3 linked regions of the Homo sapiens genome follow. The protein of the gene in region 2 interacts with the protein of the main gene of each other region in a pairwise test. Each region holds a gene or a part of one and is shown on either strand. Other genes may lie near its edges. The genes, in order: HMG20A, HEMGN and TLR2.

Region 1 (3,658 bases), on a different chromosome or scaffold from region 2:
GTTTTGCAACTGTTGCTTTCCTTGTTTGTCGTTTTGGTGGTGGTTTGTTTTTGTTGTTGTTTTTGCCGTAGGGTTGAGGATTAAAGAAAGTATCTTAAGAACCTGAATGGTTTTTCACCTTACTGCTTTGCTGTCTCTATTTCATAGCCTTCACAGGTATTCAAATGAGAATACCCTTTACGTGACTTTTCATTATTTAAGCAAAAGTTTAGAGTGTCTACTATATGCCAGTCACTGTTCTCAGGACTTTGAATACAGTAAATACGGCCAAATATTCATATTCTACTGTAGTTTACTCTCTAATTTACAAATTAAAACTAGAATTTTGCTCCCTTGGTATTCCTAAATAAGATCTATGTTATGATCGTTGTTCAGACTGGGTAAAGAAGCAGCCCTAAACTTGATCTCTCCTGGTCTTAATCTCTAAGCCATTCTAAACCCAGATTTGAATGTTTCAGCCTAATTTTTCTCCAGACCATAGAAGCCCCTGTGTTAAATATGCAGTCCCTTTCATTGATACATGTATCATTTTCCTACCATTCTAGCTTCTTTTGTATTGTGAAAACAAATGAGAGTGAACAGTGGGGAAAATATGGGATCAGATAGGCCCAAATTCAGCACTGGTCTCTGCATTTTACTGGCTGAGCTTACTAGCTTGGTAACCATGAGCAATTTATTTGACCTCCCTAAGCCTCAGTTTTCCTAAATCCAAATGGGGTTGTTTGGTGGAATCAGAATGTTGTATGTAAATCTCCTGGTCCAATGCCTGGTGCCAGAAGCTTCATTAATGCAATTATCTTACCCCCAATCTTGCTTCTGCTACTCTGGCTATTGTGATTTGCCCACATGTCTGTTTTAAGCTTTACATTTTCCCCACAGTATGGGATGCAGTGGTAGACTGACTGAGCTTCAGCCTTGTCCCCCTATCAGCATGCTCACACAGTTGTCAAGATTTAATTTTTTTTCCTTGTGGGAAGGAGAAATCACTAATTTCCATGATTAGAAGATATACAAAATAGAAAAGTTTCAAGAAAAGGAATCTTAATCTTGGCACAAATCACTAAGGTAATTTGAATTGTTACAGGCAGACTTTCAACTCATTCTCCTAAACTTATTTAAATACGAAAACCAAAAATGACCTTTCACACTATGATCATACCTCACATTATTCATCTACACATCCAAACGGGATCGCCTCTGGGGGGAAAAAAATCTGTACTGCACCCAGCATTAATATTTTTTTTTGCTCATGCTATTTTCTGCCTGAAACACTCTTTTTTCCTAGGAATCCCCATCTATCAAAATGCCACTTTCTTTGAGGTCGTTTCTCAAGTACCACATTTAAGAAATATTTTCTGATATCCATCCTCTTCTACACTCTCCCAAACTGTACACGTTCTGTCCATTAACTCTCCAGAGCATTATACCTTTCTTACAGCACTTACTGTCCAGTGCTCCTCTTGTTTGTTTTTATTGCGTTGTTGTAGGTAGAGTTTATGCCTTCCCTAAAAGGCTGCAGACTAGGTCTTATTCCACTCTGTGCTGTCATACCTGGCACAAGACCATTCACATCATAGGTATTCAGTAAATATTTGTGGACGTGAGCTGGCTCTTGGAGTATGACAAAACTGATCAATAACTTTTGTCCACAATTATGCCCAGCATCAGCACAATGGCTATCATACATTAGACACTCAAATATCTATAAAATGAAAGAGTGAATAGTAAGTCATCATTCTCTCATTTGGGAGCTTCTTAGGGTGTCAGATAAGCATATATTAAGCACCTCCTATATAACTGGAGCTGTAAGAACTGATCTCTGCTCCTCAATTTAATTGGAAAAAAGTAAATTGTTACTAATATCTGCAGACTTTGAAGATGGTAGGTGTTTGAGTAGGGATGGCATGGAGAGCTTAATATAGAATTGTTTGCATTGTGAGAGATACCCTCTGCTACCTGAACTCAGAAACCAAATAGATTTTTATATCAAATATTTGGACACTTAACTTGTATTTCCACTCCTAGGTATATATCCAAGAGAACTTAAAACATGTTCACACAAAAACTTGCACACAAATATTTGTAGCAGCCTTATTTGTAAAAGGCAAACTCAAATGTCCATTAATTATTGGATGACTAAACAAAATGCGATATAGCCATACAATGGAATATTATTCAGCAACAAAGAGAAACAAAGTAGCAATACCTGCTGTAACATGGATAAAACTTGAAAATATTAAAGTGAAAGAAGTCACATACAAAAGGCAACCTATTATGTGATTCCATTTATTTAAGATGTCTAGATTAGGCAAAACTAATAGAGACAGAAAGTACATTAGTGGATGGGAATGGGAGTGACTGCTAGTATGGAGTTTCCTTTGGAAGTGATGAAAATGTGCCAGAATTAGATAGTGGTGGTGGTTGCATAACCTTATATACTAAAATATCTTGTATACTAATATACAGTTGACACCTGAACAATGAGGGGGTTCGGGGTGCTAACCCCTGTGTTGTCAAAAATCCATGTATAACTTCTGACTCCCCAAAAAGTTAACTACGTAAATAGCTTACTGCTGACTGGAAGCCTTACCAATAGCATAAATAGTTGATTAACACATGTTTTATATGTTACATGTACTATGTACTGTATTCTTACAATAAGCTAGAGAAAGAAAATGTTACTAAGAAAATGATAAGGAAGAAAAAATATGTTTACTATTTATTATTCGTTAAGTGGAAGTGGATTATCATAAAGGTATTCATCCTTGTCATCTTCACATTGAGTAGGCTGAGAAGGAGGAAGAGGAAAGGTTGGTCTTACTGTCTCAAGTGGTGGAGGCAGAAGAAAATCAGCATATAAGTAGACTCATGCAGTTCAACCCATGTTGTTCAAGGGTCAACTGTACAAAAAAAATCCTGAAATATACACTAAAGGGGTCAGTTTTATGGTATGTGAATTATATCTAAAAGAGAGAGATACTTAGACTTGAAGAATAGAGAATTTTGAATGGAGCCAGAAGAAAGAAGCAAGAGGTGTGAAAGCAAGGAAATGATCATTCTTTCTCAGATCCTAGAGAGAAATATAAGCAGCTAGGTACAGGGCTAAAGGTATGTTAAGGATCAGGTGAGGATGGATATGAGGATAGCTTCTGGGTTTTTGTCTTAATGTAGCAGGGATTTTGGTAAATACTTAGACTACAGAGGTATTAACAAAGGAGAAAAACATCTTATGACCTTGAAGGAAGCTTCAGATTTCTTCTTGATTAGGTCAAGGATGTGGTATATGGTCTTTTTGGTTTCTGTGTTACGGTCAGCTGAGTTTAAAGAGTGGGAGTATTCTAAGGTAAGGAGTCTAGTAGCAATCAAAACAAAGTTACTGGGGAAGATGGGAGAATAGAGACTAGACAAAGATGTTAGAATTTGATTCTAAAGCTCTCCTCAGGTAATAAAAATAGATAAATCTTAATGAGAAGGAACCAAGGGCAGTGATTTGGAGAAGTCAGTACAAATAAAGGTATTCATTTGAAGAAATATTTGAGTGCCTTTTATGTGCCAGGCACTATTAAATAAAACTATAGCTATTTTCCTTATTTGACTTTTTTTCTGAAGATAAAATCTTATGAGTGTGATTAATGGTTCTACAAGCATGGGTAGTTCT
Region 2 (3,658 bases):
CCCTTACAGTATACCTCATTTGATATATACTGTAGCAACTTAGAATTCTTTACACAAAATAATGTATTTGATAATCAAGCCATATACAGCATCCACCTGCAGGCTGCACAGACGAGGAGCTGTGCCAGGTCTAGAAACTCGATTTGTATGAGTTTACTCAGGGGTAGGGAAGTAACACACAAAGACTAAATGCAAAGAGACTAGTGTATAAACCAGAATGCCACTCTATTAATTTGTAATGAGAATTATTTATTTTCCATAACAAAACTTTAAGAATATGCTATAACACACGCACGCACGCATACGCGCATGCACTACCCTCACCAAGAAGGCTCCTGGTAAGCATGGTATCAATGCCACGAAGTCCTGGAGAAACATTCCCTCTCCTAAGAATTGAGAACATCTAGAGCTGCTCCTTCATTTTACAAACAAGGAGATTGAGGCCCAGAGAGATTAAGTGACTAGTTCATGATACTTGTGCAATGAGGCAGTGGGGGACCTGGCACTGTTATTACAAGCATTTATTTGAATTCTGTAGTACCACTGCTGACACTAATTCTGTTCTTTCTGCAGAGAACAGAAAAAACGCAAGCAGCAGAGAACAGGAAAAGGAAATCGAAGAGGCAGAAAGAGACAACAAAACACAGAATTGAAGGTGGAGCCTCAGCCACAGATAGAAAAGGAAATAGTGGAGAAAGCACTGGCACCTATAGAGAAAAAAACTGAGCCACCTGGGAGCATAACCAAAGTATTTCCTTCAGTAGCCTCCCCGCAAAAAGTTGTGCCTGAGGAACACTTTTCTGAAATATGTCAAGAAAGTAACATATATCAGGAGAATTTTTCTGAGTACCAAGAAATAGCAGTACAAAACCATTCTTCTGAAACATGCCAACATGTGTCTGAACCTGAAGACCTCTCTCCTAAAATGTACCAAGAAATATCTGTACTTCAAGACAATTCTTCCAAAATATGCCAAGACATGAAGGAACCTGAAGACAACTCTCCTAACACATGCCAAGTAATATCTGTAATTCAAGACCATCCTTTCAAAATGTACCAAGATATGGCTAAACGAGAAGATCTGGCTCCTAAAATGTGCCAAGAAGCTGCTGTACCCAAAATCCTTCCTTGTCCAACATCTGAAGACACAGCTGATCTGGCAGGATGCTCTCTTCAAGCATATCCAAAACCAGATGTGCCTAAAGGCTATATTCTTGACACAGACCAAAATCCAGCAGAACCAGAGGAATACAATGAAACAGATCAAGGAATAGCTGAGACAGAAGGCCTTTTTCCTAAAATACAAGAAATAGCTGAGCCTAAAGACCTTTCTACAAAAACACACCAAGAATCAGCTGAACCTAAATACCTTCCTCATAAAACATGTAACGAAATTATTGTGCCTAAAGCCCCCTCTCATAAAACAATCCAAGAAACACCTCATTCTGAAGACTATTCAATTGAAATAAACCAAGAAACTCCTGGGTCTGAAAAATATTCACCTGAAACGTATCAAGAAATACCTGGGCTTGAAGAATATTCACCTGAAATATACCAAGAAACATCCCAGCTTGAAGAATATTCACCTGAAATATACCAAGAAACACCGGGGCCTGAAGACCTCTCTACTGAGACATATAAAAATAAGGATGTGCCTAAAGAATGCTTTCCAGAACCACACCAAGAAACAGGTGGGCCCCAAGGCCAGGATCCTAAAGCACACCAGGAAGATGCTAAAGATGCTTATACTTTTCCTCAAGGTAAGGGCTGTTTATAGCACCAAGGTAGGTACATCTCCCCCAGAGTAGTGATTTACAACTTTCTCTGACAATCCTGGGTATTCCCTGTTATTTCAATGGATACTGTGAATTTCATTGACTAGTTTTAAGTGAACAATATTTTCATGCAACCAACGTCTGTCTTGGCATATTTCAAAGAGTTAAAAAAATTGAAAATGCAAGCATGTACATTAAGTACTTATTCATACTATCCATCCATTATGAGATGCTATAGTCAGTGAAATGAACCCAATATAGGATGAATTATTGCAAAATATTTTTAAAAATTAAGTCTACATTAACAAGAAAGCTTGATGAATGAAGTTTTTCTAGGAAATTTAATTTGCCTGATAAATGGAAAGCAGGTAAATTCATAGTACGAAGTACTGAGGGAGATAAAAGCTGTAAAATATAATCCTGTTACTAGGGAATTCATTCTTGTAGGATTTATCAGGTTTACCAAAAACCCTTTCTATTTCAAGATTTGTTCCTGAAAAACTTTTTCCTAAGTATAGGAATTTGAAAATAATGCAACCTTTCTTTAATTTCACTTGCCTCAGAGACATAACTGAGAACTTCAGCTCTCTTTGTACAATACTGTAGACAGTATAAGAAATGGACTGAGTCTATCAGACCATAGTTATCCCCAGGAAACTGATTTCTAAAGAAATCCCTTTAGTAGTTTACTTGCTCTTTATCCTAAAAGATGAGTGCAACAAAAACATGGTGCTAGTTGGTTTCCAAGTAATACCAGTTTTGAAGAACTACTTTAAAGAAATACATTGCAGCAAAAGCAGGCATGTGAAGCAGTACGTGCACTGACAGGAGTACCCTGCTGGAGAAGCAGCTCTAACCAACACAGCGTCCTGATTCCTAACTGCTTCATTCTAAACCCAGCAAGGTCGATATGGTCAATTAATTAACGCTTATTTTATTTTTGGCTTTGTTTGACCAAATAAATGGGAATATCTATTTTTCCTGATTATAAAAGTAGTAAGTGTTCATTATAATAAAGCAATATGTAAGTGAATATCAAGTAAAGTAAAAGTCCCCTATAATACCATCTTCTATCTTCAGTTCCCAATGTTAAGGTTGTTTTGTTTCAACAAATGAGACAGTACCCATCCTATCCTGTAACTTGTTTTTGTTTTCATTTACAATATGTATTGCAGCCATCTTTATGATGTCTTTTGTAACAACTGCATAGTACTGTGCTATATGTATATTCAACCAGTCTCTATAAGGATGAACACTTAGGTTACTGCCAAGTTTTACTATTACAACAATGTTCAATGAACATCATTGGGAATAACATTTATTTAGTTAACATTTATCTGGTACTTTTCTATGTGCCAGACACCATATTAAATATTTTATGTGGTTTATTTTATTCAATGTTAAAAGCTCTACTGGATAAATAATACTCCCATTCTAAATATAAGGAAATGGAGGCACTGGAGGCTGAAGTTTGTCTGATTATTTCCTTTGAATCAACCCCTAGAAATCAAATTGTTGGGCCAAACGGTACCCAAATTTAAAGTTTGAATATACAGTCAGTCAGACTAGCCTCCAGAAATGTGGTAGCAATTCACACGAGACAGGTGCCTTTTCCCCACACCCTTGTCAGCACTGTACATTATGACATTTTAAAAATCCTTGTCTGTCTGCTAGGTTAAAAAATACACTTGATCGGCCGGGCGCGGTGGCTCACGCCTGTAATCCCAGCACGTTGGGAGGCCGAGGTGGGCGGATCACGAGGTCAGGAGATCGAGACCATTCTGGCTAACACGATGAAACCCCGTCTCTACTAAAATTACAAAAAATTAGCCGGGCGCGGTGGCGGGCGCCTGTAGTCCCAGCTACTCGGGAGGCTGAAGCAG
Region 3 (3,658 bases), on a different chromosome or scaffold from region 2:
AAGATGAGGAATGCACCATTTGGCAAGTTGGGCATCACTGGATAATAGCTTTAGCTTCTTTCCAGGTACTGTTATATCTGCATTTGAGACCAGAGGCATTAACATGGGTTAAATTGTGAAAGTGTCTAGCATTAGATATTGCAGTAGCAACTAGGCGATCAGCCATTTGATTCCCTTCAGTTAAAGGTCCTGGAAGAGGTGTATGAGCCCTAATGTGAGTGATGTAAAAAGGGTGCATTCTACTCCTAAATGCTGTTTGCAATTGGGTAAATAAAGTCATCAGTTGTTCATCTGTATGAAGTCATAACTGAGCATTTTCAATTAATTGTATGGAATGAACCACATAGGAAGAATCAGAAATCACATTAATAGGCATATCAAAAGCAGTCAATACCTCAATTACAGCTAAAGCTCCACTTTTTGAGCTGAAGTATAGGGCGTGTGAAAAACTTTACCTTTTGATCCAGAATAAGAGGCTTTACCATTACAAGACCCATCTGTAAAAACATTCTCAGCACCTTCAGTTGGTTTAAATTTAGTTATTTTGGGGAGAATCCAATTAGTTAATTTCAAAAATTGAAATAATTTCATTTTAGGAAAATGATTATCAAGAATACCCACAAAGTCAGCTAAATGGGTTTGCCAAGTAAGACTATTTATAGAAGCTTGCTGTATTTGTGCCTTTGTGAGAGGGACAATAATTTTTCCAGGATCATATCCATGTAATTTAACAATCCGAATTCTCCCATTTCTTATCATCGTAGCCATTTGATCCAAATAAGGAGTTAGAGTCTGTGAATTAGTATGTGGAAGAAAAAGCCACTGTACAAAGTCTTGCTCTTATACAATAACACCAGTAAGTGAATGCTGAGTTGGAAAAATTAGCAAATCTAGGGTCTTTTTTGGATCTATTCTATTTATTTGAGATTTATGGATTTGCTTTTTGATTAGCTGCAGCTCTGCCTCAGCTTCTTTTGTTAATTGCTGAGGGCTAATGAGACTAGGATCTCCTCTAAGGATAGAAAATAGATTACTCAGGGCATAGGTGGGAATGCCTAGAGCAGGTCATATCCGATTAATGTCCCCTAGTAATTTTTGAAAGTCATTTAATGTTTTCAATTGATCCCTACGTATAGTTACTTTCTGTGGCACAATGGTAGTGTCATTTACTAAGGTCCCCAAGTAGGAGTAAGGAGTAGTAGTCTGAATTTTGTCAGGAGCTATATAATTAAACTGGCATGAGAAATCGAGTTTTGCAAGTGATCATAACATTGGAGTAATATTTCTTGAGTGGGGGCAGCACAAAGTATATTATCCATATAATGAATAATGTAACACTGTGAAAATTTTTTACGAGTAGGTTCAATTGCTTGCCCTTCATAAGTCTGGCAAATTTTTGAACTGTTTCACATGCCTTGTAGCAACACTTTCCAATACAAATGCTTTAGTATGCTGCAGGTTTTTTACTGCAGGAATTGTAAATGCAAACAGTTCACAGCCTTGCTCAGCTAAGGGGATAGTAAAGAAACAGTCTTTTAAATTTATGACTATTAAAGGCCAATTTTTTGGAATCATAGCAGAAGAAGGCAGTCCCGGCTGCAATGTCCCCATAGGTTGTATAACTGAATTAATGGCTCTTAAGTCAGTTAACATTCTGCATTTACCTGATTTTTTCTTAATTACAAAAACTGGAGAATTCCAAGGGGAAAATGTTGAGCTATGTGTCCTTTTTCTAATTGTTCAGCAACTAAGTCCTCTAAAGCCTCCAGTTTCTCTTTACTCAGCAGCCATTGTGCTATCCAAATTGGCTTATCTGTTAACCATTTTAAAGGTATATAGGTTCTGGAGGCTTAACAATGGCCACCATCAAAAATGATATCCTAAACCTTGGTGGGAACTTTGTCTTTCCGCTTGAAGCATTTCCTTCAAAGCTTGCAAATTTTTTCCTAGTCCCATACCAGGGACATACCCCATTTCATGCATCATATGTTGACTTTGAGGGCTGTATAATTATTCTGGAATTAGAACTTGTGATCCCCATTGTTGTAATAAATCTCTTCCCTATAAATTTATAGGTACAGAAGTTATAATTTTTTGTATAGTCCCAGGTTGTCCATTGGGCCCTTCACAATGCAAAATATAACTACTTTGATATACTTTAAGGGCTTTACCAACTCCAACTATGTTAAATTGAGCAGGTTGAATTGACCATGCAGATGGCCAGTGCTGTACAGAAATGATTGAAATGTCCGCTCCTGTATCTACCAAACTTTTAAATTTCTTTCCCTGAATAGTTATTTCACCAGTAGGATGTTTATCAGTAATTTGATTCACCCAATAAGCTGCTTTGCCTTGTTTATTTGTGCTTCCAAATCTTCCTGTTCATTTAATTTCACTTTTCCCCATTTCCACATATGGCATAATCAGGAGCTGTGCTATATGCTCTCCTGGCTCTGCTTTCCAGGGAACAGAAGTAGATATAACAATTTGAATTTCCCCTTTGTAATCTGAATCAATGACTCCTGTTTGTACTTGCACGCCTTTTAAATTTAAACTAGACCTACCTAGAAGTAATCCTACCATCCCCGCTGGCATCATCTGACTGGAGACAGCAACCTTCTTTAACAGTCCCATTACAAAAGGAGAACCTGTTCCATATGGATTAATAGCTTGTTTAAATTCTTTGAGTAATTTAAAAGGAAAAGGCTCAAATGTAGCTATAATATTTCCCTGTTGATCTACGGGGTATATTCTAACAGGGAACTGCTAAGCCTCTATATCACCCTCTCTTCTAACTTGCTGAATTCCTGGCTGAATAGAACTGAGAGTGGTCGCTCGAGGTGCTGCTCAGTCACTGGGGCGACTACTTTTTGCCCAGTGTCCTCTGGAAAAGAAAGATCTGGAGGATCAGGCTACTCTTTTGCTTCGAAATAATGAGGGGGTGCAGAAGGGTAGGGACAAACCTCTCCCTCCTTTGCCACTTTAGCTTTAGCTGGCAAACAAACCTGCTCTGTCACCTCTTCTGTTACTTCATTATACTTTCCTTCCTCCTCATCTTTAGTGTGAAAAGGTTCCAAGGTGGAATGAGCTAGAGCCCACACTTGCCCATTGTTACCCTGATGCTTCCGAGCTCCCCTTCTTACTCACCATGGGGATTGCTTAAGAGTACTCGGGTATCCTCCAGCTTTGTTCCACGTTTTCCAACCATTGCTCCAGCGAGCCTTCATCCTGGGTTTGAGTCCCCACGTTGGGCGCCACTTGCCGAGACCAGCTCGGTCGTGGAGACCCTAACCCAGCAGTGCTAGAGGAATTAAAGACACACACACAGAAACATAGAGTGTGGAGTGGGAAATCAGGGGATTCACAGCCTTCAGAGCTGAGAGCCCTGAACAGAGATTTACCCACGTATTTATTGACAGCAAGCCGGTGATAAGCATTATTTCTGTAGATTATAGATTAACTAAAAGTATTCCTTACAGGAAACAAAGGGATGGGCCAAAACAAAGCGATGGGCTCTGGCTAGATATCTGCAGCAGGAACACGTCCTTAAGGCACAGATCGCTCATGCTATTGTTTGTGGCTTAGGAATGCCTTAAGTGGTTTTCCATCTTGGGTGGACCAGGTGTTCCTTGCCCTCATTCCAGTAAACCCACAACCT

The links.
Region 1: the proteins of HEMGN (region 2) and HMG20A interact in a two-hybrid assay, tested with the Homo sapiens proteins (one study listed by BioGRID).
Region 3: the proteins of HEMGN (region 2) and TLR2 interact in a two-hybrid assay, tested with the Homo sapiens proteins (one large-scale study listed by BioGRID and IntAct).

Annotation. Positions count from the first base shown.
Region 1 is NC_000015.10:77,423,757-77,427,414, forward strand, and holds part of HMG20A (high mobility group protein 20A), read left to right. Parts: intron 1-3,658. UniProt on the Homo sapiens protein: Plays a role in neuronal differentiation as chromatin-associated protein. Acts as inhibitor of HMG20B. Overcomes the repressive effects of the neuronal silencer REST and induces the activation of neuronal-specific genes.
Region 2 is NC_000009.12:97,928,137-97,931,794, reverse strand, and holds part of HEMGN (hemogen), read left to right. Parts: intron 1-573; coding exon 574-1,760; intron 1,761-3,658. UniProt on the Homo sapiens protein: Regulates the proliferation and differentiation of hematopoietic cells. Overexpression block the TPA-induced megakaryocytic differentiation in the K562 cell model. May also prevent cell apoptosis through the activation of the nuclear factor-kappa B (NF-kB).
Region 3 is NC_000004.12:153,690,660-153,694,317, forward strand, and holds part of TLR2 (toll-like receptor 2 precursor), read left to right. Parts: intron 1-3,658. UniProt on the Homo sapiens protein: Cooperates with LY96 to mediate the innate immune response to bacterial lipoproteins and other microbial cell wall components. Cooperates with TLR1 or TLR6 to mediate the innate immune response to bacterial lipoproteins or lipopeptides.